Homo sapiens: one gene and its partners. The protein of the gene in region 1 interacts with the protein of each later gene in a pairwise test. Each region holds a gene or a part of one and is shown on either strand. Other genes may lie near its edges.

What was found.
Region 2: the proteins of DLST (region 1) and RAB31 interact in binary tests that used the Homo sapiens proteins (3 or more experiments, as listed by UniProt).
Region 3: the proteins of DLST (region 1) and CRELD2 interact in binary tests that used the Homo sapiens proteins (3 or more experiments, as listed by UniProt).
Region 4: the proteins of DLST (region 1) and MYNN interact in binary tests that used the Homo sapiens proteins (3 or more experiments, as listed by UniProt).
Region 5: the proteins of DLST (region 1) and MMAB interact in binary tests that used the Homo sapiens proteins (3 or more experiments, as listed by UniProt).
Region 6: the proteins of DLST (region 1) and ISY1-RAB43 interact in binary tests that used the Homo sapiens proteins (3 or more experiments, as listed by UniProt).
Region 7: the proteins of DLST (region 1) and PPEF1 interact in binary tests that used the Homo sapiens proteins (3 or more experiments, as listed by UniProt).

What each region holds. Positions count from the first base shown.
Region 1 is NC_000014.9:74,901,580-74,904,243, forward strand, and holds the end of DLST (dihydrolipoyllysine-residue succinyltransferase component of 2-oxoglutarate dehydrogenase complex, mitochondrial isoform 1 precursor), read left to right. Parts: intron 1-616; coding exon 617-751; 3' UTR 752-2,164; downstream 2,165-2,664. UniProt on the Homo sapiens protein: Dihydrolipoamide succinyltransferase (E2) component of the 2-oxoglutarate dehydrogenase complex. The 2-oxoglutarate dehydrogenase complex catalyzes the overall conversion of 2-oxoglutarate to succinyl-CoA and CO(2).
Region 2 is NC_000018.10:9,844,301-9,847,800, forward strand, and holds part of RAB31 (ras-related protein Rab-31), read left to right. Parts: intron 1-1,281; coding exon 1,282-1,391; intron 1,392-3,500. UniProt on the Homo sapiens protein: The small GTPases Rab are key regulators of intracellular membrane trafficking, from the formation of transport vesicles to their fusion with membranes.
Region 3 is NC_000022.11:49,921,634-49,924,835, reverse strand, and holds part of CRELD2 (protein disulfide isomerase CRELD2 isoform b precursor), read right to left. Parts: coding exon 3,075-3,202; intron 2,966-3,074; coding exon of another isoform or gene 2,931-2,965; exon of another isoform or gene 2,842-2,930; intron 2,543-2,841; coding exon of another isoform or gene 2,393-2,542; intron 2,225-2,392; coding exon 2,129-2,224; intron 1,603-2,128; coding exon 1,519-1,602; exon of another isoform or gene 1,376-1,518; intron 477-1,375; coding exon 381-476; intron 1-380. UniProt on the Homo sapiens protein: Protein disulfide isomerase. Might play a role in the unfolded protein response. May regulate transport of alpha4-beta2 neuronal acetylcholine receptor.
Region 4 is NC_000003.12:169,776,396-169,779,895, forward strand, and holds part of MYNN (myoneurin), read left to right. Parts: intron 1-2,372; coding exon 2,373-3,166; intron 3,167-3,500.
Region 5 is NC_000012.12:109,553,215-109,556,504, reverse strand, and holds the end of MMAB (corrinoid adenosyltransferase MMAB precursor), read left to right. Parts: 3' UTR 1-2,790; downstream 2,791-3,290. UniProt on the Homo sapiens protein: Converts cob(I)alamin to adenosylcobalamin (adenosylcob(III)alamin), a coenzyme for methylmalonyl-CoA mutase, therefore participates in the final step of the vitamin B12 conversion.
Region 6 is NC_000003.12:129,140,564-129,144,063, reverse strand, and holds part of ISY1-RAB43 (ISY1-RAB43 protein), read left to right. Parts: intron 1-3,500. UniProt on the Homo sapiens protein: Component of the spliceosome C complex required for the selective processing of microRNAs during embryonic stem cell differentiation. Required for the biogenesis of all miRNAs from the pri-miR-17-92 primary transcript except miR-92a.
Region 7 is NC_000023.11:18,706,381-18,710,444, forward strand, and holds the start of PPEF1 (serine/threonine-protein phosphatase with EF-hands 1), read left to right. Parts: upstream 1-1,264; 5' UTR 1,265-1,400; coding exon 1,401-1,446; intron 1,447-4,064. UniProt on the Homo sapiens protein: May have a role in the recovery or adaptation response of photoreceptors. May have a role in development.

The DNA of each region.
Region 1 (2,664 bases):
ATTATGCATGTCAGTCTGTGAGCTGCCAAGTTGTATGATAAAGCTTGTAAATTTCCCGGGAGTTCAGAGAATTAAGTATTAAAAGGGGCTTGAGCTGGCCCTTAGAAGATACGTTGGTATCAAAAAAGCTTTCTGGGAACTCCTGTGTTTAGAATCCTTTTGGGTTACTGACTCCTGTGTGAAACCACAGTCTGTAGATCTTCCTGGAAAATGCCCATACACCCAGCTACACATACAATTCCAGAATTTGTAGACCCTGGCTTAATTTTTTTTTTTTTTTTTAAATTCTAACCCCAGAGAGAAGCAAGTACAGGCAGCCAGAACTGAAGGGAAAACTTTCCTTGTAGGCAGCAGATGCGTTAGAGGGCAGAGTATGTTTTTAAAAAATAAAAGGCAGTTGTGAGAAGACAGTTTTCTTGGCAAACTTTGTTTCTGAGTGGGGAAGCTTTGCACTGAGGGTAAGTCCTGGTCTTTGAAATACTGTAAATATGCAGAGGCAACATCAATAGGAAAGGCTCTGGAATTAGGAACTTTCTTATGGGCTGTGCTAAATCTCCTTCAGCGAGGCTGGCTGTGGCTTGCTGGAGACAAACCTATTTACCTTTCCTCTCTGTAGGTAGAGGTGCGGCCCATGATGTACGTGGCACTGACCTATGATCACCGGCTGATTGATGGCAGAGAGGCTGTGACTTTCCTCCGCAAAATCAAGGCAGCGGTAGAGGATCCCAGAGTCCTCCTCCTGGATCTTTAGGAGGAACCCACACACCCTACAAGTTGATCATGCAGGAACTGAAAACCAGTCTTCTCCCTGTCCCCTCATGGGTCCCGGGTTAGCCTGGTGACAGGCAGACACATGCTGTTGGCCTCAAGCAAGGAAGCAGAGCACTGTGTAACCAGCAGTCACAGGTCTTTTCTTGGCGTTCCTGCCAGGCTCTCCCTCTCTGCACCTGTCTCATAGCCTCGAATATCTTAATTCCTTAGGCTTAAGAGAGAGAGCCTTAATGGATGCTCATTCATATTCCTGCCTTTCTTCCATCAGCTCTCTGCAAAGATGATTTTGCTTTTCCCTAGTGCTGGTATACTATAGAGAAACCCCTGGGGACCATGTGATTAAGTTCCTATCTTTTGAAAGTTTGTTCTGCAGAGACTTCTAGGAGGATGCTGTGCCTCCCAAGCTCAGAGCAGCCTCTGTCCTGGCTGTGCACATTCTCCCTTGATTCCACTTGTGTGGAGGGATTGAACACAGGCAAAGAGGTGCTGCTTTGCTTCTTCAATGGCACCTTCATTCTCCGTTGTCATTGACTTCAAGATGCCTCTTCTACCTCTTCCAGGAAGCACAGGCCAGGGGATCTGGGTGTGTGAGTGGGAGGAGAGGGCAGAGGTCCCCTGAGGTCATGCATTGTAATCATCATAGAAGGAGAGCCCAGGCCTGCCCTCACGCTCTCCATCATAGGCTGACACCAAGAAGACTCGTCTTGGCACAATCTCACACAGCTGGGGCTGTAGCAACCCTTTCCAACCCCTTTGCTGGTTGCTGGGCCTCATTCTAGCACCTTGTTCTTAGAGCAGATTCTAGCACATCATGGCAGTGGGACCAAGCGTGGTCCCGAGGAAGGGCCAGAGCCTGGTAGAGACTAGGGAAGGGAGGTCTCCTCTAGACTGACTCACATTGCCTTGAGCTTTTCAGTTAAGTTGCTGTAAGCACCTGGGCTGAGGAGGCAGTTTTTGTTCCTTCCTGCGTTATAGCGGGGCCTTGTCTCTTCCTCTGCAGGACACAGATCTGGAGGACGTGGACTGGGGTAGGAAACCACCCTGAGGGTGTTAGTACCTAGTGGTGAAACGGATGAGGTCATTTCTAAGGTGTGTTGCCCGTGGATCTGGGCACAATCATTGGAATTCCTTGGAGCCACTGGGATTCATGGCTTTGTATCCAACTGCATCCAGGCCTGAGGCTGCTGACGTTTGACACCAGGGCCAGTAGAGAGTGCCCTTTTGTATCTTAAGCCAAGAAGTGAGGCCTGGGGGTGGGGGAGGGGGGAAGGGGTGGGAGCCAATACTGAGTGCCTGCAGCATCTACTACTCTGTCTTCACTATTCAGAACTTGTAACTAAAGTATTTAAAGAAACTGATTTTAAATGCAAATTAAAGGGCAGATATTCTCAAACAGGGTTCCTGTATCTGTTCCTTTTGGCTACTGAGGTGGTACAAGTCCCCAGCACTGTTGCACTGAAATTATTGAAAGCCACTCAAGGTCCTGTTGCTTATTTTGTGAAATCAGAAATCCCTTATGTGGAACTTAACACTCATAATTTGACAGAAGGTAGAACCCTGACTGCCAGCCGGGAAAGTGTTGCCAAAAAGAGTCAACCTCTGTAAAAATATTTGAAGAGATTTATTCTGAGCCAAGTGTGAGTGACTGATGGCCTGTGATACAACTCTTAGGAGATCCTGAGAACATGTGTCCAGGGTCGTCTGGCTACAACTTAGTTTTATACATTTAATACATTTTAGGGAGACATAAGATACCAGTCAGTACATGTAAGATGTACAGTGGTTTGGTCTGGAGAGGCAGGACAGCTCAAGACCTGGGGATGTTGTCATAGGCAGAATCAAAGATTTTCTGATTGGCAATTGGTTGAAAGAGTTATTATCTAAAGACCTGGA
Region 2 (3,500 bases), on another chromosome or scaffold:
CCATAACATCCCCAGCAGTGCTGGGTGCAGAATCAACTTTTAATAATCTCCGGGAATGTGTGCACTCTCCTGTCTCTGGGCCTCTGCTCAGGCTGTCCCATCCCAGAGTCTGACCTGCATTTGCCTAGCCTTCATGGCCACACTTAAGGTGACCACCTCTGGGCATCTTCCTGGGGTCTATTGAACAGAACACATCACTTCCTGCCCCTCTGCTCCTGAAGCACTTTATGTCGCAGTGTTGTGGATTAGAGTGCCCCTGGATGAGCCCTGTTTGTCTGTGTTCTAAAGCACAGGTGCCAGAAGGCAGAACCTGTGTTTTCTCTGGCCCCTGGGAGAGGGACTGGCATGCAGCAGCTGCTGGAGAATAGGAACTGCATCTTTTTTATCTTTGGATCCACCACAGCATTTTCACATTGAAAAGAGGTCAGTAGGTTTTTTTAGGGTGGTATGGCCGTAGACCCCATCCAAGTACTAGCCAGGCCTGACCCTGCCTAGCTTCCAAGATCAGATGAAATCAGGTGCGTTCAGGTGAGTTTTGTTTTGTTTTGTTTTGTTTTGTTTTGTTTTGTTTTGTTTTGTTTGAGACGGAGTCTTGCTCTGTCACCCAGGCTGGAGTGCAGTGGTGTAATCTCGGCTCACTGCAAGCTCTGCTTCCTGGGTTCACGCCATTCTCCTGCCTCAGCCTCCCGAGGAGATTTTTTTAATTGTTCATTTAAATAGAGTTCATGCCCTAAAACCTTTGCGAGAACATCCTTTTACAGATGAAAGTCCAGATATGCCATCCTGTATTGTAGCCATGGTCGGTATAACCATGCTCGTTTCCAAACTGTCACAGCACATTGCATATTTTCTCTGATTTGTGAAAGATAATATGTAAAAAGTTTCACAAAAGCATGTGTGCACAAACATACTAACAGAGGTTTGGTGTTTTTTAATATTGAGTCATGTAATGGGGAAAAAAGTTGAAATCAGCTGTAGCTCTGAAAGCTGAAATGTGTACTGCCATATTTGTCATGGTTTTCCCTGCTGTTCTGGAATTCTTCTGTGGGAGCAGGAACACTATTTTATATATGCATATCTTCTCTTCATGAATGCCAGAGACTGGGTTTTAAACTTTAAAAAGTCTCACTCATACTAGGTGTCCATTCTTGCTGAGTGATTGAATTATTATTCTACAAGAAGATAAAGGAGCTGTTGCCGCACAAGCTGTCTGGTCTTTTGGGTGATTTGTATTTTACAAACAAACATTCATTTCCTGTCTACATTTGACCTCTTTTCCAGGGAGGTTCCCCTGAAGGATGCTAAGGAATACGCTGAATCCATAGGTGCCATCGTGGTTGAGACAAGTGCAAAAAATGCTATTAATATCGAAGAGCTCTTTCAAGGAATCAGTAAGTACCTGAAATTGGGTTTTCAGCCCAACTTGCATTTTTATGCTTCTGGGAGTCAAAGGATAACATTTTAGAACTCTGAAGTGAACTTTTCCTCTGTGTGAATTTATCGGATGCCATGGATACAAAATCTACAGCTATGCAGTTGTTAATACCCACTTCTATTATCCTCTCGATTCTAGATTTCCATGATTCTGTACTGGAACCTGTTCACTCTGAGTTCTGTAAATTAAAATGAAGTAATCCTGTTGCAAAAATAAAATTTATTTTAATTGAAAATTATGCATTCTGTAGCATTTTATGTTAGGAGGAGAGAGAAAATAGACAAGGTATAGAACTCAAGGTCACCCATTAGATGGGATGACTCTAGGTAAACTGAGGGAACCTTCCAGTAACTTTTTTTGCCTGATCATCTCCTACAAAAAGTAATGTCTCCATCCTGTTTGACCTGAAATTGGGAATTGGATACAGGGTTGGCGTGTACAGGTACCCCATGTGTCTGGTGAGCTAATTAGGGAGGGTGACAGCCTCCTTCCTGGTCCCAGTGCTGGGTCCCGTTATGCTCACTGTATGCCGGCTCCCCGGGAATAACCTTATCAACCAGAGCTGGTTCCCAGCTAATGGCTCTGCCAACACATCTATCTGCAGCTGTGAGGCTTCCAGCTCAACAGATTTAACCTTCATAAGTTCTCTGGTTGTGTCATTCTGTTCCGGATTCTGCCAGAGAAGTCCCTGCTGACAGCCATCTGGGAAAACTGCTCTGAGACACCCTCAGGAAAGTTCGACCGGAGCATTATCAGGGACGTTGGGAGAAGTACAGGTGTTTGATGAAATACTGGCCCTGAAGTTCCTGGAATAGCCACCTTAGGAGGAGTTGAACCCCAAAACAGTAATTGTCCTCAAATATCTTAGCTCCAGACAACTCCAGAAGGGAAACTGATGGTTTGATCTCTTTCCTGCCTGAGATCGTTTTTGGCAGAGCTCTCAAAGTCAGAGAAGCCGTGGCTTCCCAGAACAGTTTTGATTTCTGTTTAACTGGTTTGAGTGCATTACTTTAGACTCCAAGAACCCACAGGAGGGAATCTTTTGTTTATGTTGGCTTGATGGAGAATTCATTGGAGATGGGGAATTCTGACCTGTCTTACCTACACTATGCAGAGATATGCAAAAGAAATGTGCAAAAGAATGGCTTGGAGCCTCCCCTCCCCAGCTGCTGGCCCTTTCCTTCACTGGGGTCTTCACTCTCTTCCCTTCTTTCCACCTTCCCTTTCTTTCCTCCTTTGATTTCTTACTCTCAACAGAATGGTTTCAGGCTCCTTGCCCTGAATGGCTGAACTCTAGCAGGCTGGGGCTGGAATTTCATGTGGGAAACCCCATGTCCCCACATTCCTCTCCCTTCTCCATCATGGTCAGTGGGTGCAGATGCTCTCTGGTGTTGTGTCACTCTGGGTGACATCTAAGTTTGGGCTCGAACTCATTACATTAGCCTCACATTTCCTCAGATTAAACTCATTCTCTTCTGGTGGCGTTAGGCTCTTCTGCTATGCTCAGCTATGAAACATTTTGTTTTTACAGGTGGTTTTAATGAATGAAGCTAGATAGCTCCTGAGGACGATTGCCTTAGCACCTTCCATCCTTACAGCCCCGCGTCTTCCGCAGAGCCCCCTCCTCCTCCTTAGCTCCCTGGCCTTGGAAGACCCCCAGCACAGATATCAGTGGTCAGCCAGGGGAGCCTGGTGCCTTGTATGACCTGAACTTGAGCTTGAGATCTCTGCACCAGCTGGGAAGCTTTCTGAAGTTTATGAAAGTCATTGTTAAAATTTAAAAATATCAAATAAGGACCTGAAAGAGAAGAAGCCTGAGTAGGAAGTACTGTACTAATATCTTTTTTCTTTTTTTTTCTGAGACAGAGTCTTTGTTGCTCAGGCTGGAGTGCAGTAGTGCAATCATAGCTCGCTGCAGCCTCCACCTCCTGGGCTCAAGCAATCCTCCGACCTCAGCCACCTGGGTAGCTGGGACTATAGGTGTGCACCACCACACTCAGCTAAATTTTTGGATTTTTAGTAGAATCAAGGTCTCGCCATGTTGCCTAGGCTGGTCTCAATCTCC
Region 3 (3,202 bases), on another chromosome or scaffold:
TCCACCGGGTTCCATCCACGCCCAGGCTCACCCAGGCAGCCCACAACCATGGCAGGCCTGGACTTAAGCCTCGGGGCAATCGCCACCCAGGAGCTGGAGGGAGAGCAGAGGCGGTGGACCTGGGGAACGAGGCCACCGGCGAGAGGCTGGTGCAGCAGCGCCATCCACACCAGGGTCGGCCATGCAGAGCCCGTCCCCCACCCCCACTGCTTCTGTGTCTCACGTGGACCTCAGGGCGAGTGCACAGTGACCCTGGGGGAGCCACGTCTGCAGGACGGGTCTCAACTGCTTCCCATCCCTGGCAGTACCTGCTGGGGCCATTCACATCATGGTCACTTGGGAAGGGTCCACCAGCGTCCAGCACAGACCCCGTCACTGACCTGCACACTGTCCGTGCTCCCTCGCGTAGCCAGAGATACACTCTTTACAGTTTCCTGGGCCTTCCCCTGTGCAGCCCACACAGCTGGAGTCACACTCTGCAACAGGGAGCCAGCGTCAGACCCCGACATGCACAAGGCACCAGTGCCCGTCAGACCCCGACATGCACAAGGCACCGGTGCCGCCAGGATTTGGGTTTTCTCCTCATTCATCACCAAGTGACTTTATAACGATCTGTCTCTGTCTCCCGGCAAAAGCACAGACTCGCGTCCTGCTGTGCAGCAGGTGCTCCCGGAGAGCCATGGTGCAGACCACCTGGCTTGGAACTCTTTGGGAGAAACTGGGTGCTACAGAGATTCTAGAAACAAACCCACCTCCAGCTCGGTGACCATTGGTTTGCCAGCCTGCCAGGAGCTTCCTAAGAATAACCAGAGCCTCTCGCATGGCTTCCAGTATTAGTGGCTCACTGAGGGACCCACTGTCTGCACTCCCAACAGTGAAAACTGCCTGGGGCTGTCACACACACGGGGCAGAGGCGGCCTCCTCCCTGCTGCTGGGACTGGGGATCAGCACAACTTTTCTGGGGCACTATGGCTCTAAAAGACACATTCCCTTGACTGAGCGATTTGGAAATTAATCCACAGAAAATCATAAGGAATGTGAAAAGTTTACCTTCAAGTGTTCACAGTTTATAAGTTGAAAAACTGTTATGACGTAAACGTCCAGCAACAGACATTGTTGTAAAAGTATGAAATAATGGCTCCAAAATCATTAGCGTGACAGAGAAACCACAGGACGCAGAGACGTTCGCAACAAGCTGCTGAGTGGAAAACACCCGACAGGCGCTGCGGAAAGTCACGCAGGGCACGTTGCGGGGGCGCTGGGGGGGCACGAGCAGTGGAGGCACCAGCAGGGTGCGCTCTCCAGGGAGTTCCTGGGTTTTTAACTGTTTTCTTTTCATCTGACTTGAATTTTCTGATTTTCCTGCAGCAAATACCTATGACTTACTTTGCCACACTAAGTGTTCTCAGGGCAGGCAGGATGTATGGAAGTGACACTAAGAAGCCATAAATGAATGTTGACAAAGGCAGCAACGAAACCCGGCAGGCCCCGGAGTGCAGACCCGCCCGCCTGGCCCACCTTCGCACGTGTAGGAGCCGTTGGCGTTCTTACAGAACTGCGCAGCGCTGCAGGGAGGCGGCTCGGCCGCACACTCGTCCACATCTGGAACAGAGCGGCACAGCTGTGAGCGGCCCAGGACAGCCCGGCCAGGGAGCGGGGAAGGACCGATCATGGCCTGACACAGCCCGTGGCCAGGGCCGGCTGGGGAAGGGCAGGGAGGAGGGCAGCCCCTGAGGAGGAATCATCTCAAATGCCATCCTCGGAGGCCCCACGCGGCAGGGGAGGGGATGAGGCGATGGCCAGGCCCTGTCCTTAGACACTCAGTGCCAACCGGGGCAGGCGCCCCATGAGGATGGCGACACATTGTGTGAGAGTGAGACAGTGAGTGCCCCCACACCTCACGCCCCCACCTCACGCCCCCACACCTCACGCCCCACCTCATGCTCCCCCACACCTCACGCCCCCCACACCCCAAGCCCCACACCTCACGCCCCCACCTCACGCCCCCACACTTCACGCCCCCCTGCCTCCCGCCCCCATGCCTCACACCCCCCACGCCTTACGCCCCCATCTCACACCCCCCACGCCTCACGCAGGCGCCCTCCTCCACCCCCGGGCCGCTCCTCACCCACACAGGCGCCCTCGTCCAGCACCCAGCCCACTTCACACTCGCCGCAGTCTCTGTTGGTCAGGCCCGAGCACGTCTTGCAGGACTCGTCACAGGCTGGAAGGCAAAGGCGGGCCTGGGTACAAACCCCACTCTCAGGTACCAGCTTGGGGACAAGGCTCGTTTAAAAGTGAGGAATTTAAGAGGGAAAAGCAACACGGGATTTTCAGTGCCCATGAATTTAAAATTCTCAGCAAACCAGGACTCCAAGGAATTTTTAATAACCTGGAGAGAAGGCAGCTATCCATACTCTGGAGCTGTAGCCTGGCTGGGTGTGCGTGTTCCGGCCACGGATCCATGCGTGGCCCACGCCACGCCAACATCCAAGAGACAGACAGCAAGGCGGGTAAGAATCGGAGAGGCCGGTCCTGACTGCTGAGGGGCGTAAGAATCGGAGAGGCCGGTCCTGACTATCGATCCACGGGTCTGTCTGCCCAGAATAGCCTAGGGGCTGCCGGCCAACCACACACTCACGTCCGAGACACTCAGAGTTTTCCTACATATCAGTGACAACCAGGGAGAAAACGTCCTTTGGAAAGATGCCACTCATAACGGCCTGCAGGGATTTGACAGATGCTGCTCTCTGGGCCGGTGCGGGGCCCACACGGCACCTCCAGGACCTGTGCACTGCATGGCCCATCACAACTCAAGGTCGGGGTGGACCTTGAACTAGAGAGAAAGGTGAGTAGCTTCTCCCTTCTGAGGGCTGTTACGGGACAGGAAGTGCCCGACAACCTCTGCCTCTATCCTCTGATGTTTTCATTCATCCTTCTGGGCCCTCGAAGCTTCCTTGGACATCTGGGGTTAAAGATCAACAGGCCCCTGTTCCCATCTAGGCAGGCAGCTCCAGCAAGGGGCTCTTGTCATCCCGCCTCAACCCCGGGGCCAGCCCAGGCGTAGCCCGTACCTGTGCAGATGCTGTGGGTCTCGTTCCGGAGCGAGCTGAAGTAGCCGTCCATGCAGTCAGTGCACAGCGGGCCCTGGTACCCCATGTGGCACCGGCAGGACCCGTCGCCCTGTCTGCTCCCATCTCCG
Region 4 (3,500 bases), on another chromosome or scaffold:
TGTGCTCTTGGACAGGTTACTTTATTTCTTTGGACTTCTGATTTTTCACTTGTGTGTAAAATGAGGATTATAATAGATTTCATAGGCATGTCCTGAGGATAATCTTATAAAGCATTTAGGCATGTACCTGGCAATATGTAATTAAATGACCTTCAGTGACTGTTCAGAGGATGTTATCTAATACTTGTAAACAAAAGCAAATCTGTTATTGAAGTATTGATTGGTGCTCTTAACTGTGACTGAGATTATAGCCATCTATGAAATAGTTTGTATGAATTACCATTTCAATGTTGAACAAATTTTTTTTTTTTTTTTTTTTTTTTTTTGAGATGGAGTCTCACTCTGTCACCCAGGCTGGAGTGCAATGGCGTGATCTCGGCTCACTGCAACCTCCACCTCCCAGGTTCAAGGGATTCTCCTGCCTCAGCCTCCCGAGTAGCTGGAATTACAGGCACCCGCCATCATGCCCAGCTAATTTTTGTATTTTGTAGATACGGGGTTTTACCATGTTGGCCAGGCTGGTCTTGAACTCCTGACCTCAGGTGATGCGCCCACCTTGGCCTTACAGGCATAAGCAACTGCACCCGGCCTTGAACAATTAATGTATGACTTCCTGCTAACTTATATTGGTCTTAAAGGCTACCTGACCTTGTTATCTGTTTGGCGGTTTATTTTATGGAGCACTAAACACAATTAGAGACCAAAAGATCTTTTTTAGTGGCCCAGCCCAAAAGACAATTTTTAGAAAGCTGTTGTGATGCTAAATTAAATAAGGGGAAACATACAGGTGGCACTTGAGGCAAAGCAAGTTTAATTAGAAGATGATGAGAACATGGGTAGAGATTTGTAGATACTGTAGCATACTTTTAGAGATCTTAGAGGTTCATGACACTAGTTATTTTTTATTTTATTTCAAATTTTAGTCCTTTAAAATAGTATCACCAGCACTATATTTACATTGTCAGCTATGATTAAAACCCTTTTCTGGCTTATACTTACAACAGAGAGGGAAAGAGATCATCTTCCCAAAGATAAACCATATTTAGGGAAAAAAATCAAGTAGGAAGATTATTTGAGGGTAAGGGGTGTGTGTGTGTGTGTGTGTGTTTCCATCCTCAAATACTTATAACAGTCATGTTTTTAGTGTTAACACCAACTCAACTCTAATTTTACAGCTAAGAAAGTTGAACCCCCCAAAGATGCTGACTTACCCTAATTAAGTCAGCCAGTAATGCCAGAGCCAGTGCTAGATTAATCAAACAACCTTTCACCACATTGTGAACTTCTGAAGGGCAGAGACTATTTACTTATTAATATCTTAGTACCACACATGGTAGATGCTTAGTAAACATTTGACTAGAATATTGAACAAGGTGGCTTAAGTCTTTCTTTGTAACTCTCACATCACGAACACTCCAGCTAATTTGGGTTGAGTATCACCAAAAAAGGTGGGAGGGTTGCTAGAGAGAGTTTAACATTCTAAAACCTTGTTCCTCTAAGTGGATTCCTCTAAGCAACATTGGCATCACCAGGAAGTGTATTAAGAAATGCAGGCTGTGCTGGTGGCTCACGCTTGTAATCCTAGCACTTTGGGAGCCCAAGGTGGGAGGATCACTTGAGGCCAGGAGTTCGAGACCAGCCTGGGCAGCATAGCAAGACCCTGCCTCTACAAAAAAAATAGCCAGGCATGGTAGCACATGCTTGTAGTCCCACTTACTTGGGAAGCTGACGCAGGAGCCCAGGAGTTGAAGGCTGCGGTGAGTTATCATTATACCAGTGCACTCCTGCTTGGGCAACAGAAGAATACCCCATCTCAAAACAGAAAAAAAATGCAGAATCTCAGGCCCCATCACAGACCTACTGAATTTGAATCTACATTTAACAAGATTCCCGGGTGATTCACATGCACAGCAAAGTTTGGGAAACATAATTAAAGTCCCTCACAGGGGAGCAGGAGAAAATAGTAGGAAACAAGTGTCATTAGACTTTCCCTCTTGCCAATCCAGAAAAGTTGGTTGCTATCTGAAGAAGCCTCAGGATGAATGGAGGAGGTAGTGAGTTACCATCAGCTATTTTTGTGTTCTAGGGTTTTAAAAAAAAAGCCAGAAAATTTAACATTTAATTTTTCTGCAGTGGTTCACTGTCAGCTGTGAATAGCCATTATCTTTCATCTCTTGAAGTTCTGTAAAATTGGAGATTTTTTACCTAAACATTATTCTGAATGAATTTATAAATCTATTTTTCTCTTAGTTATGTCTTTTTCAGCATTCTGCTTCATTAGGTCTTTAAAATACATTGAAGTATATATGCAGCTCTGTTTCGAAAGTTTTTCTTTGATCAGAATATTGTCATGTAGCCTTGTTTCCTTGCAGTTGGAATGTTAAAGAAATTCATCAGGCTGCTGACTATCTCAAAGTGGAAGAGGTGGTCACTAAATGCAAAATAAAGATGGAAGATTTTGCTTTTATTGCTAATCCTTCTTCTACAGAGATATCTAGTATTACTGGAAACATTGAATTGAATCAACAGACTTGTCTTCTTACTCTGCGAGATTATAATAATCGAGAGAAATCAGAAGTATCTACAGATTTGATTCAGGCAAATCCTAAACAAGGCGCGTTAGCGAAAAAGTCATCTCAAACGAAAAAGAAGAAGAAGGCTTTCAACTCCCCGAAAACAGGGCAGAATAAAACAGTGCAATATCCCAGTGACATCTTAGAGAATGCATCTGTTGAATTATTCCTAGATGCAAATAAACTGCCCACACCTGTAGTAGAACAAGTTGCACAAATAAATGATAATTCAGAACTCGAGTTGACATCAGTTGTGGAAAATACTTTTCCAGCACAAGATATTGTGCACACTGTTACAGTGAAACGGAAACGTGGAAAATCACAGCCAAACTGTGCTCTGAAAGAACACTCTATGTCTAATATAGCCAGCGTCAAGAGTCCTTATGAGGCGGAGAACTCCGGGGAAGAGCTGGATCAGAGGTATTCCAAGGCCAAGCCAATGTGTAACACATGTGGGAAAGTGTTTTCAGAAGCCAGCAGTTTGAGAAGGCACATGAGAATACATAAAGGAGTCAAACCTTACGTCTGCCACTTATGTGGAAAGGCATTTACCCAATGTAACCAGCTGAAAACGCATGTAAGAACTCATACAGGTGAGACGGGTGTGTGGGGAGATATTATTTTTATACTGTGACTAATATAGTGTATTTTTATAGAGAGTACTTAGCACACACTACTTGTGACCAGAATTTGGTATATTTTTCTATTCATCAAAGTATTTAACAGTGTTAAACTGTTGAAAATTTATTTGTAATTGTAACCAAGTATTTAATGGCTGTTTAAGCCCTAATGCATCAACTCCTTATACCATTTTCCCTCCAAATAAGTATGTTGATTCTAGCTTACCAAGTATTTAACAGAGACAAAGACATTAAAACTGATAAAGAGAAAATGTAATTACAATTCAGGCCAATTTTCAGATATTGC
Region 5 (3,290 bases), on another chromosome or scaffold:
AGTTTAGTCACCTCTGAGCCACCCATCACCGCCAAAGTGTGGGGGAAGGATAGCTGCAGATTGACAGGCGAGGCTCAGAAACTCCTGGCTTAGATTGAAGTGTGTGTGATGGGGGTGCAGCTTAGAGGACCCCCTCTGAAAGGGATGGAGATGCTGATGAGAACAACACTACCACTTGAAGGTGAACATTCCCTGTCTGGTTGGACTGAGTCAAGGGTCTGCGGTGCAGCATCTTCAGCTTGAGAAAATGAGGTTGTCAGTTTCCAGCAAGGCTGACATCCACCAGACTGATTTCTCCGATGTTGCACTTGGCTGGCTTATGCCTCTGAGATCGGTGCCACGGCTGTATTTATTTCAGTTGTCACTGCTGCTCCCTCCTGCTATGAAACGACACTGCCAGTGCCAGCAGTGTCCTTGGGAAAGGCAATATTTATGAAGGGCAGAAGAGGCAGCCCCAAGAACCTAAAGACTGCAGGCTGCTAATTGCAGGAAATGACTTTGGAAGGGCAGGCTCTTGTCCAGTTTCAGGGCTGAAATGCCTGGCGAACTCCATTCAGCCATCACATATTGACTGAGTGGCTGCTTAGCATGGGCCACCGCGCTAGGCTCGGGACAGCTGGTCTTTCCGGCCATCTTTCTTGCTGGCAAGTCAGCAAACATTACCTTCTTAGTCACGTGCATATTTTTGCCTTCATTCTTACCACCTGGCCTGCAAAGTTTGCAGGAGGGCCAGGTATATTCACTTGTGTCTTCTGGGTCCTTTCATTGCTGACAGGCTGTGATGGCCCTCTTGAGCCTTGGGCAGGGTGGGTGAGGTGCAGATGACCAGGAGTGTGTGAATGCCTTCCAGGAGGTGGCTTTGTTCCGTGCCTCCCTGCCCCCATCGTCACTACCAGGTCTGGTACGGAGTCGGTGCTCAGTGTTTGCAAAACAGAGCTGAAAACGGACTTTGGGAGGCCGAGGCAGGCAGATCACCTGAGGTCAGGAGTTTGAGACCAGCCTGGTCAACATGGTAAAACCCCATTTCTGCTAAAAAAAAAAAAAAAAAAAAAAAATTAGCTGGGCATGGTGGCGGGTGCCTGTAATCCCAGCTATTCAGGAGGCTGAGGCAGGAGAATCACTTGAACCTACGAGGCAGAGGCTGCAGTGAGCCAAGATCGTGACACGACACTCCAGCCTGGCTGATAGAGTGAGACTCCGTCACAAAAAAAAAAAAAAAAAAAAAAAAACCCTGAAAACGCAATCACTAAGGCTCGGTCAGGGAGTATGTTCAAAGAGCTTGCAGCGAATCACTCAATTCTGTCTACACCTCAAAATCTCAAAATCTTCCTGGAATATATATATATATATAAAATAACACAGCAGCCCTGCATGCCTAGCCATGGGAAAGCACAGCCTCCAAAGGATAAGGAAAGCTTTTTGAGTAAATACAACATCCTAAAGTGACAATCTTTGAAACAAGGCCGTTCACCTGTTGCCAAGTCCTGTCCTTCCAGGACCGGGTGTCACAGCCTGGATGTTAACAGTCGCGTTCTCAGACCCCCGCCTCTGTATCTGTCTCCCGGTTCACCAGCAAACACTTCTCTGAGAAACCACCTGGGTGCAGGGCAGATGCCACCACTCAGCAGGTGTTTCTCTCCTGTGCTACCAACCTGGGAAAAATGGAGAAAGCTTGCTTTGGGGGCTGGAAGGATGGGGTGTTTAAAACATTTGCTCTTCTGCAGTGCCTTTCAAAAGCTCTATCAAGAGCCCGAGGCAAAAGAAAAGATGTGTACCCCTCTGTACACTGAGCAAATGTCCTCCCATATTTTGAACCAGGTGGGAAAAGTTAATGAAAGCCCTACAGTCAGGAAATGTGACTGCGAAGCCCCCGCTGCCCCAGTGTTTGCACACCACTGGCAACTCTCAGAAACAATCAGTCCCATTGCACGGGAACACGGGGTTTTGAAACAAACAGCAGCCTGTTTTTATTTAAAGTCGTGATCCCTTGCTTATCGTAGATTTTTTTCATAATTTGATTTTGGAAAATATTGCACACAAATACTACTCGATCCCTGAGTTTGTGGGCACTTCCTTACATTTTGCACCCATGAAAATGCCTCCTCCGCCTCCAGGTCAGGCTCCCTGGAATGGGGTGTTTAGTGTCATTTCCAGAGACAAGCTGGCAGTTGGCTCTTGTGTCAGAGAGAAGCCCACAGTCACAGTGACACCAGCCCGCACTGTGGAAGGGCTTGCTATGTGCAGTGCCCTGAGCCAAGTGTTCCACAGACATTATCTCATTTGAACCCCATAGCAGCCCTGGAAGGAGGCATTGGGTGGGGAACCAAGTTGTCCTGGGGAGTCAGTGCCAAGATGTGAGCCCCGGACGCGGCCTCGTCACTCACAGCCCCGTGCTCCTCAGCTCCCACCCACTGCCGCTTGACAGTCGTTTTAATCACTACCTGGGCTGTGGCGAACAATGCCAGGCTCTGATAGATCCTGCTGTCTCATTTCTCAACCTAGTTTCCCTTAACTAATATTTCATGGCTATCGTTAATGTGCGTTTTTCATCGAGTAATTTCCACAGCCCGAACTTGTAACACATCCCAATGACAAACGTCCCCAGTTCGGAAGCCCCCGTCAGTGGCAATGTCACCCTTGCTGCTGCCTCGACACCTTCCGACAGCCCATTCAGTTTTATGATCGCCCTGTCCCAGTGATCACTACTGAACCTTTAAGAATCCAGATGCATTTCAAGTTTAATTGAATAAAATTCTTTGTATAATAAATTCCGCATGAATGCTACATAAATCAGTGCCTGGAAGGATTTGTGGCTCATCCCTCCCCTCTGGCGGGGCCTGAGAATCTTCTGGCAATACTGACACAAGCTGGAATAAATGCATCTTTGCAGTCAGTCCAGCTAGAGGCAGGCGGCACAGTTTTAACTTGCCTTGGCCTATTGCTTTTCTTCTCTCAGAGTCCTCCTGGAAGATAGTGCTAAAGTCCAACAGAGGCAGGGACAGGCAGATTGCGGAGACCTAGAAACTTTGGGGACATCCCTCGTGTTCTCCCATTCCACAGAATCAGAAACTTCTCAAGCTGTGGTTTGTCACCTTTGGAATGCACACACACATATTCACAAGTTTGCATCCAGTCATAGGAAGTCCATGGAACCTCCCGGTAAGAATCCCTTTTCTAAGAGAACCCATGCGACCCTCTTCGGGAGCTAAGTCAGGATTCCCAAGGCTGCCTTCAGCAGCCTGTTTCAGGGTCAGATAGCTCCAGCCTGGAAGGGTGAGAAGATGCACTTG
Region 6 (3,500 bases), on another chromosome or scaffold:
GAAAAAATTCGTATGTGAAATGTTAAGTTCCACCACCCAAATTCAACACTATTAATATTTTTATATATTTTTTCCAGAGATTTTTAATGCTTAATAATTTTATTTTTATTTTCTACATATAAAAGTAATATATTACCACTAAGTTCAGAAAAGTACAAAGAAGCAGAACAACACTCAGTCACAATCCCATTACATAAGTGCAGCCACTTGAATATGCTCTTTATCTTTTTTCTCCTTCCGTTGTTTTTGTATGAATGTCATAATTGAAACCATACTCACTGTATGTACAATTTTGGTTCTGGATTTTGTTTTTCTTTTCAAAATGGTAGCTTTCATTATATAAACAGTACATATTTTTGTGCAGAGAAAAAATATAAATATAAAAATTATAAGATATAAAAAATACATATTAGTATATACATTATAGAAATTCATTAATATTCTATGTGCTTTATTCTCTAAACTGTACAAGGAATACAGTTTCGTGTCAATAAATAATCATATGATAGATATGTATATTGTTTTATTTTATTCTAGTTTAGTTTTTTTTTTTTTTTTGAGACAGAGTCTCGCTTCATCACCCAGGCTGGAGTGCAGTGGTGCGATCTTGGCTCACTGCAACCTCTGCCTCCTGGGTTCAAGCAATTCTTGTGCCCCAGCCTCCAGAGCAGCTGAGATTATAGGTGTGCGCCACCACACCTGGCTAATTTTTATATTTTAGTAGAGTTGGGGTTTGACCATGTTGGCCAGGCTGGTCTCGAACTCCTGACCTCTGGTGATCTGTCCGCCTTGGTCTCCCAAACTGCTGGAATTACAGATGTGAGCCACTGCACCCAGCCTCTTAGTTTTTGTGACAAGATTTTACTCTGTCACCCCAGGCTGGAGTGCAGTGGCACGATCATGGCTCACTGCAGCCTTGACTCCAGGTGCAAGTAATCCTTTTACCTCAGCCTCCTGAGCAGCTGAGATGACAGGTGTGTGCCACCATGCTCAGCTAATTTTTGTTTTTGCGACGGAGTCTCGCTCTGTCACCCAGGCTGGAGTGCAGGAGTGTGATTTCGACTCACTGCAACCTCCCCCTCCTGGGTTCAAGCGATTCTCATGCCTCAGCCTCCAGAGTAGCTGGGATTACAGGTGCCCACCACCACGCCCAGCTAATTTTTGTATTTTTAGTAGAGACAGGGTTTCACCATGTTGGCCAGGCTGGTCTCGAACTCCCTACCTCAGGTGATCCACCTGCCTTGGCTCCCCAAAGTGCTGGGATTATAGGTGTGAGCTACCGTGCCTGGCCATGCCCAGCTAATTTTTAAATTTTTTGTAGAAATGGTGTCCCATTATGTTGCCCAGGCTGGTCTTGAGCTCCTGGAGTCAATCAGTCATCCTGCCTCAGCCTCCCAAAGTACTGGGATTACAGGCATGAGCCGCTGTGCTCAGCCAAATTGTATGATTTAAAAAAATGTTTTTTAACTCAAAGAGCATTGCAAAAATATACAGAGAACTTTTATATACCCTTTATACAGATTTACCAGTATTTAACATTTTGCTTGTATTTGCTTTATTTTCTTTGTGTACCTTGAGATTTATTTTTTGTGAACCACTTGAAAGGTAGGTTACAATACATCATGCTTCTTTACCCTTTAATATATGTGTATTTCCTAAGAAGAATATTCTCTTATGTAACCATGGTAGAGCTATCAAGTTTAAGAAATTTAACTTGGCTACAATAATTGAATCCATGTGGCATTTCATCAGTTTTCCCAATAATGTCCTTGGTAGCATTTCCCCTGCAGTACAGGACCTGATCTGGGGTCACATACTACATGTAGTTGTCAAATCGTCTTTTTTTTTTTTTTTTTCGAGACAGAGTCTCGCTCTGTCGTCCAGGCTGGAGTGCAGTGGCGTGCGATCTCAGCTCACCCTAACCTCCGCCTCCCAGGTTCAAGTGATTCTTGTGCTCCAGCCTCCCAAGTAGCTGGAATTACAGATGTGCACCACCGTACCCTGCTAATTTTTGTATTTTTAGTAGAGATGGGATTTTACCATGTTGGCCAGGCTGGTCTTGAACTCCTGACCTCAGGTGATCTTCCCGCCTTGGTCTCACAAAGTGCTGGGATTACAGATGTGAGCCACCGCACCCAGCAAATCATCAGTTTTAATAGATATAGTTGTATCTTCTGGATATATTTCATTTGTTTTCCACTAATTGTCATATAGGTTGTTTGTAATCTTTTTAAAGGTTTTGTCACTTAGCATCGTGTTTTTTATCTTTATTTATTTATTTATTTTTTAATTATTTTATTTTATTTTTTTGAGACGGAGTCTTGCTCTGTCACCCAGGCTGGAGTGCAGTGGTGTGATATCAGCTCACTGCAAGCTCCGCCTCCCAGGTTCATGCCGTTCTCCTGCCTTAGCCTCCTGAGTAGCTGGGACTACAGGCGCCCACCACCATGCCTAGCTAATTTTTTGTATTTATAGTAGAGACGGGGTTTCACCATGTTAGCCAGGATGGTCTCGGTCTCCTGACCTCGTGATCCGCCCACCTCGGCCTCCCAAAGTGCTGAGATTACAGGCGTGAGCCACTGCGCCCGGCCTAGTTTTATTTATTTTTTTTGAGACAGGGTCTTGCTCTGTCACCCAGGCTGGAATGCAGTGGCACGATAGGTGTGTGTCACCATGCCTGGCTGATTTTTGCATTTTTTTGTAGAGACAGGGTTTTGCCATGTTGCCCATGCTGGTCGTGAACTCCTGGCCTCAAGTGATCTTCCCACCTTGGTGTCCCAGAGTGCTGGGATTACAGGTGTGAGCCACCGTGCCCAGCCCATAAGTGTTTTTTATTTATTTATTTATTTATTTATTTATTTATTTATTTAATTTACTCCAGCCCTGGCTGGAGTACAGTGGCACGATCTTGGCTCGCTGCAATCTCCACCTCCCAGGTTCAAGCAATTCTTCCTGCCCCAGTCTCCTGAGTAGCTGGGATTACAGGCATGTCTCACCACACCCAGCTAATTTTTGTATATTTAGTAGAGACAGGGTTTTGCCATGTTGCCCAGGCTGGTCTTGAACTCCTAAGCTGAAGTGATCGCCTACCTTGGCCTCCCAAAGTGCTAGGATTACAGGTGTGAGCCACTGCATCCAGCTATTATCTTAAAATATATTTGCAAACATGGAAATAGTGGGTTTAAAGATCAGATCTGCCAGGCGCAGTGGCTCACGCCTGTAATCCCAGCACTTTGGGAGGCCGAGGTGGGTGGATCATGAGGTCAGGAGTTCAAGACCATCCTGACCAACATGGTGAAACCCCGTCTCTACTAAAAATACAAAAATTAGCCAGGCGTGGTGGCACGCACCTGTAATCCCAGCTACTCAGGAGGCTGAGGCAGGAGAATCACTTGAACCCAGGAGGTGGAGGTTGCAGTGAGATTGTGCTACTGCACTCCAGCCTGGGCAACAGAGCGAGACTCCACCTCAAATAAATAAATGGGCAACAGAGCGAGACT
Region 7 (4,064 bases), on another chromosome or scaffold:
ATGAGAAGGACTATAGAACACAAAGTTAGACTCCAGAGGGGCCTCAGCAGTGCCCAGAGAGCTTGTTTAAAAGGGCACTCTTGGCCAGGCACGGTGGCTCACGCCTGTCATCCCAGCACTTTGGGAGGCCGAGGCAGGTGGATCACCTGAGGTCAGGAGTTCGAGACCATCCTGGCCAACACAGCAAAACCCCGTCTCTACTAAAAATACAAAAAATTAGCCAGGTGTGGTGGCGCATGCCTGTAGTCCCAGCTACTAGGGAGGCTGAGGCGGGAGGATCACCTGAGCCTGGGAGGTTGAGGCTGCAGTGAGCTGTGATCACACCACTGCACTCCAGCCTGGGTAATAGAGCGAGACTCCGTCTCAAAAAATAAAATAAATAAAAGGACACTCTCACAGATTACAATTCCTAAATTTGGGGGGAGGTTTCAAACCTCCTTTTTTTTTTTTTTTTTTTTTTTTTTTTGAGATGGAGTCTCGCTTTGTCGCCCAGGCTAGAGTACAGTGGTGCGATCTCAGCTCACTGCAACCTCCGCCTCCTGGGTTCAAGCGATTCTGCTGCCTCAGCCTCCTGAGTAGCTGGGATTACAGACATGTGCCACCATGCTTGGCTAATTTTTGTACTTTTAGTAGAGACGGGGTTTCACCATGTTGGCCAGGCTGGTCTCGAACTCCTGACCTCGTAATCCGCCCGCCTCGGCCTCCCAAAGTGCTGGGATTGCAGGCGTGAGCCACTGCGACCGGCTGCCTCCTTTTTTTTAAAACAAATGTTCCCAACTTATTCCGCGAAATACTGTCAAAGAACTCACTTTGAATTTCAGCATAGCTGTTAAATATGTTGTTTTTGTCTCATAGTCAACTTCCAATTTGTGTTTTTAAAAGCCTAGATAGGTTGAATTACTTTGAGCTGAAAACCAAAACAGTTAATTATGTCAGCTCCTCCACATCCCATTCCCCATATTTAAATTAGAAAATCGTACACTCTCATATTTCGATTTTTCTTTTCATTTTGAATGCTCTATTTTATACAGAGCTGGATGTGACCTAGACATGGAGAAACTCATTTATGTCTAGCAGAGAAGCAGCCTATAGCTGCTCTGTAGCTGCTGCTGTGTTTTGGAAAATAAGCCAGGATTAGATTATGTCTGATCACTTTCCACATCACATGATGAACAGCGATTCAGAAGAAGCGTAAAATGAATCCTGCTGAGCAGCCCCTCAGCTACCATGTGGTTAACTGGCGGTTTCCTTCCCTCCCTCCTGTGTATTCCTCATTAGAATCTATGACTGAAGAGGATCGGCTAAGAGTGGTTCCTCGCAGCTTAAAGGGAGGCACTTTTCACACTCTGTCTTAAAATCAGAAGTTGAATTCATGAACACATATGATTTAGATAGAAGTCATGGGATGCAGCAGTTCTTCAACGAAAACCAGGAGATCTGACACATGTGAGTACTGGGAATGTGCCTGTGGTTATGAATGAAAAGGGGAAAATGAGCTGCCCTCACCCTCTTCTCCTTTCTCATTTACTCCCACGATGCTCAAGCTGCCCTGTGTGATTTGCACAAGGCATCGTTAGAGTAGCATAGGAAACTACATTTAGGAAGATGTAGCTTTGAATTTATGAAGTACCATAAAGTATTGTCTTAGAGATATTTTGTGTTTGATTTAATTTCATTCGATAATGTACCAATATAAAATCTCAATTTAAAACTCAGTGGCAGGGAACAAGAAAGGCAGTGTAATTTATATGTGTTTCTTCAATACTTTTATAAATAGCTATATCCCTACTTTTGTGACATTTAGTAGCATCATTGAATTTTTATTGGATTTTATAACTCAATGATCACATTATTTCTATATCTATTCAACACAGAACTTCATGAGATTTGCATCACGTTTTAAAAATAATCTAGGAGAATTGGGAGAATGCTAGATCATCTGTTTCCAAAAAAAAGGTGTATTGTTTCTAAATAGATGGCATGCCTTTCTGTACCCCCATATAATTAGAAGCTTAAATATTCACTTTGTTTATTTTGTACTGAGGTTCTTTCTCATGGCTATTGGCATCTAGTTGAAACAAACTTGAGCATTTAAGGGATAGAGTTTCCAACAAGCAAATTAAAATAAAAACAAGTAAATAAGCTGGGACAATTAATATGAGTAATTTGCTCTTAAACTCCACTTCTTTGATGTCTAGGTTATAGGTAATTCCCCCAACTTCTATTCCACGTCTTGCCTTTGGAAGTTTATTCAGGCTTAAGGTGGAGGGTTTAGGATGCAGAGTGTGCTATACTAATTAGCGTGGGATGTTTTACTTTGGGAATCAAATGTTATTCTCCTACCCAGCTGACTTGTGCTGATGATGTAGGAAACTCATCTCTGAAAGTAGGAAGGGACATAGGAGGTGTACTGACTCTTTCAAATCTTTAAGCATGTCATGAAATAAATCTTTCAAAAGCTCCATCTGAACTCTACTGCTGTAGTAGACGTTTATTAGCAGAGAGTAAAGAGAAATTATCTTTTTATATCTAGGATTACTCACAGTTCTTTAAATTTAGCCAAATTTCCTAGGTTAAAAAAAAAAAAGCCAAGTCCAACTTGTAAAAACAAATCCTCTCTCTTTTTGAAATACTTTTCAACTTTTAAAACATTGCATGTAAGTGGAAATATTAGCTTAGATTTTTGGATTGCTTTTTCTTTCAAATACCTGTGATTTATTGAGGTGAAATTCACGTAACATAAAATTAGCCATTGTCAAGTGAACAACTCAGCAGCAGTTGGTATGTTCACAGTGTCGTGCAACCACAACCCCTATGTACTTCTGAGACATTTCCAACACTCCAAAGTAAAACCCCTTATCCATTAAGCACTTTCTCCTCTCAGCCCCTGGCAACCACAAATCTATATTCAGTCTCTATGGATTTATCTATTCTGGACATTTCATGTAAATGGAGTCATATATTATGTGACCTTTTGTGTCTGGCTTTGTCCATGTTGTAGCATGTATCAGTACTATATTCCTTTTTATTGTGGAATAATATTTCATTGTATGAATATGCCACATTGTATTTATCCATTCATCAATTGATAGACATTTGGATTGTTTCAGCTTTGTTTTTTGTTTTTTGTTTTTTTTGAGACAGTCTTGCTCTGTCACCCAGGCTGGAGTGCAGTGGGGCGATCTCGGCTCGCTGCAACCTCCGCCTCCCAGGTTCAAGCGATTCTCCTGCCTCAGCCTCTGGAGTAGCTGGGATTACAGGCACACACCACCACACCTAGCTAATTTTTGTATTTTTGGTAGAGACAGGGTTTCACCATGTTGGCCAGGCTGGTCTCGAACTCCTGACCTCAGGTGATCTGCCCGCCTCGGCCTCCCAAAGCGCTAGGATTACAGGCGTGAGCCACTGTGCCCGACCTGTTTCAGCTTTTTGACTGTTATGAACAATGCTGCTGTGAACATATGTTTTCCGTTCTCTTGGGTATATACCTAGAAGTGGAATTGCTGGGTCATACGGTAGCTTTATGTTTAACATTTTGAGAAATTTCCAAGCTGTTTTCCCAAGTGACTGCACCATTCTACATTCCTACCAGCAGTGTATAAAGGTTTCAATTTCTCCACATTTTCAGCGATAGTTGTTATTGTCTGTCCTTTTGATTTTAGTCATCCTAGTGGGTATGAAGTGGTATCACACCATGGTTTTCATTTGTATTTCAGTAGTGACTAATGACATTGAGCATCTTTTCATGTGTTTATTGGCTATTTGTATATCTGCTTTGGAGAAATGTCTATTCAGATCATTTACCCATTTTTAATTGAATTATTTATTTTTATATTGTTGTAAGATAAATTTATATATTCTAGATACAAGTTTCCTATCAAATATGTGACTTGCAAATATTTTCTCTCATTTGTTGAATTCTCTTCATCCTTTCTTAATGGTGTTCTTTGAAGCACAAAAGTTTTTACTTTTGATGAAGTTCACTTTATTTTTTCTTTGGTTGCTTGTGATTTTGGTGTCATATCTAAGAATCCATTCCCGAGTCCAAAAAGATTTTTGCTCAC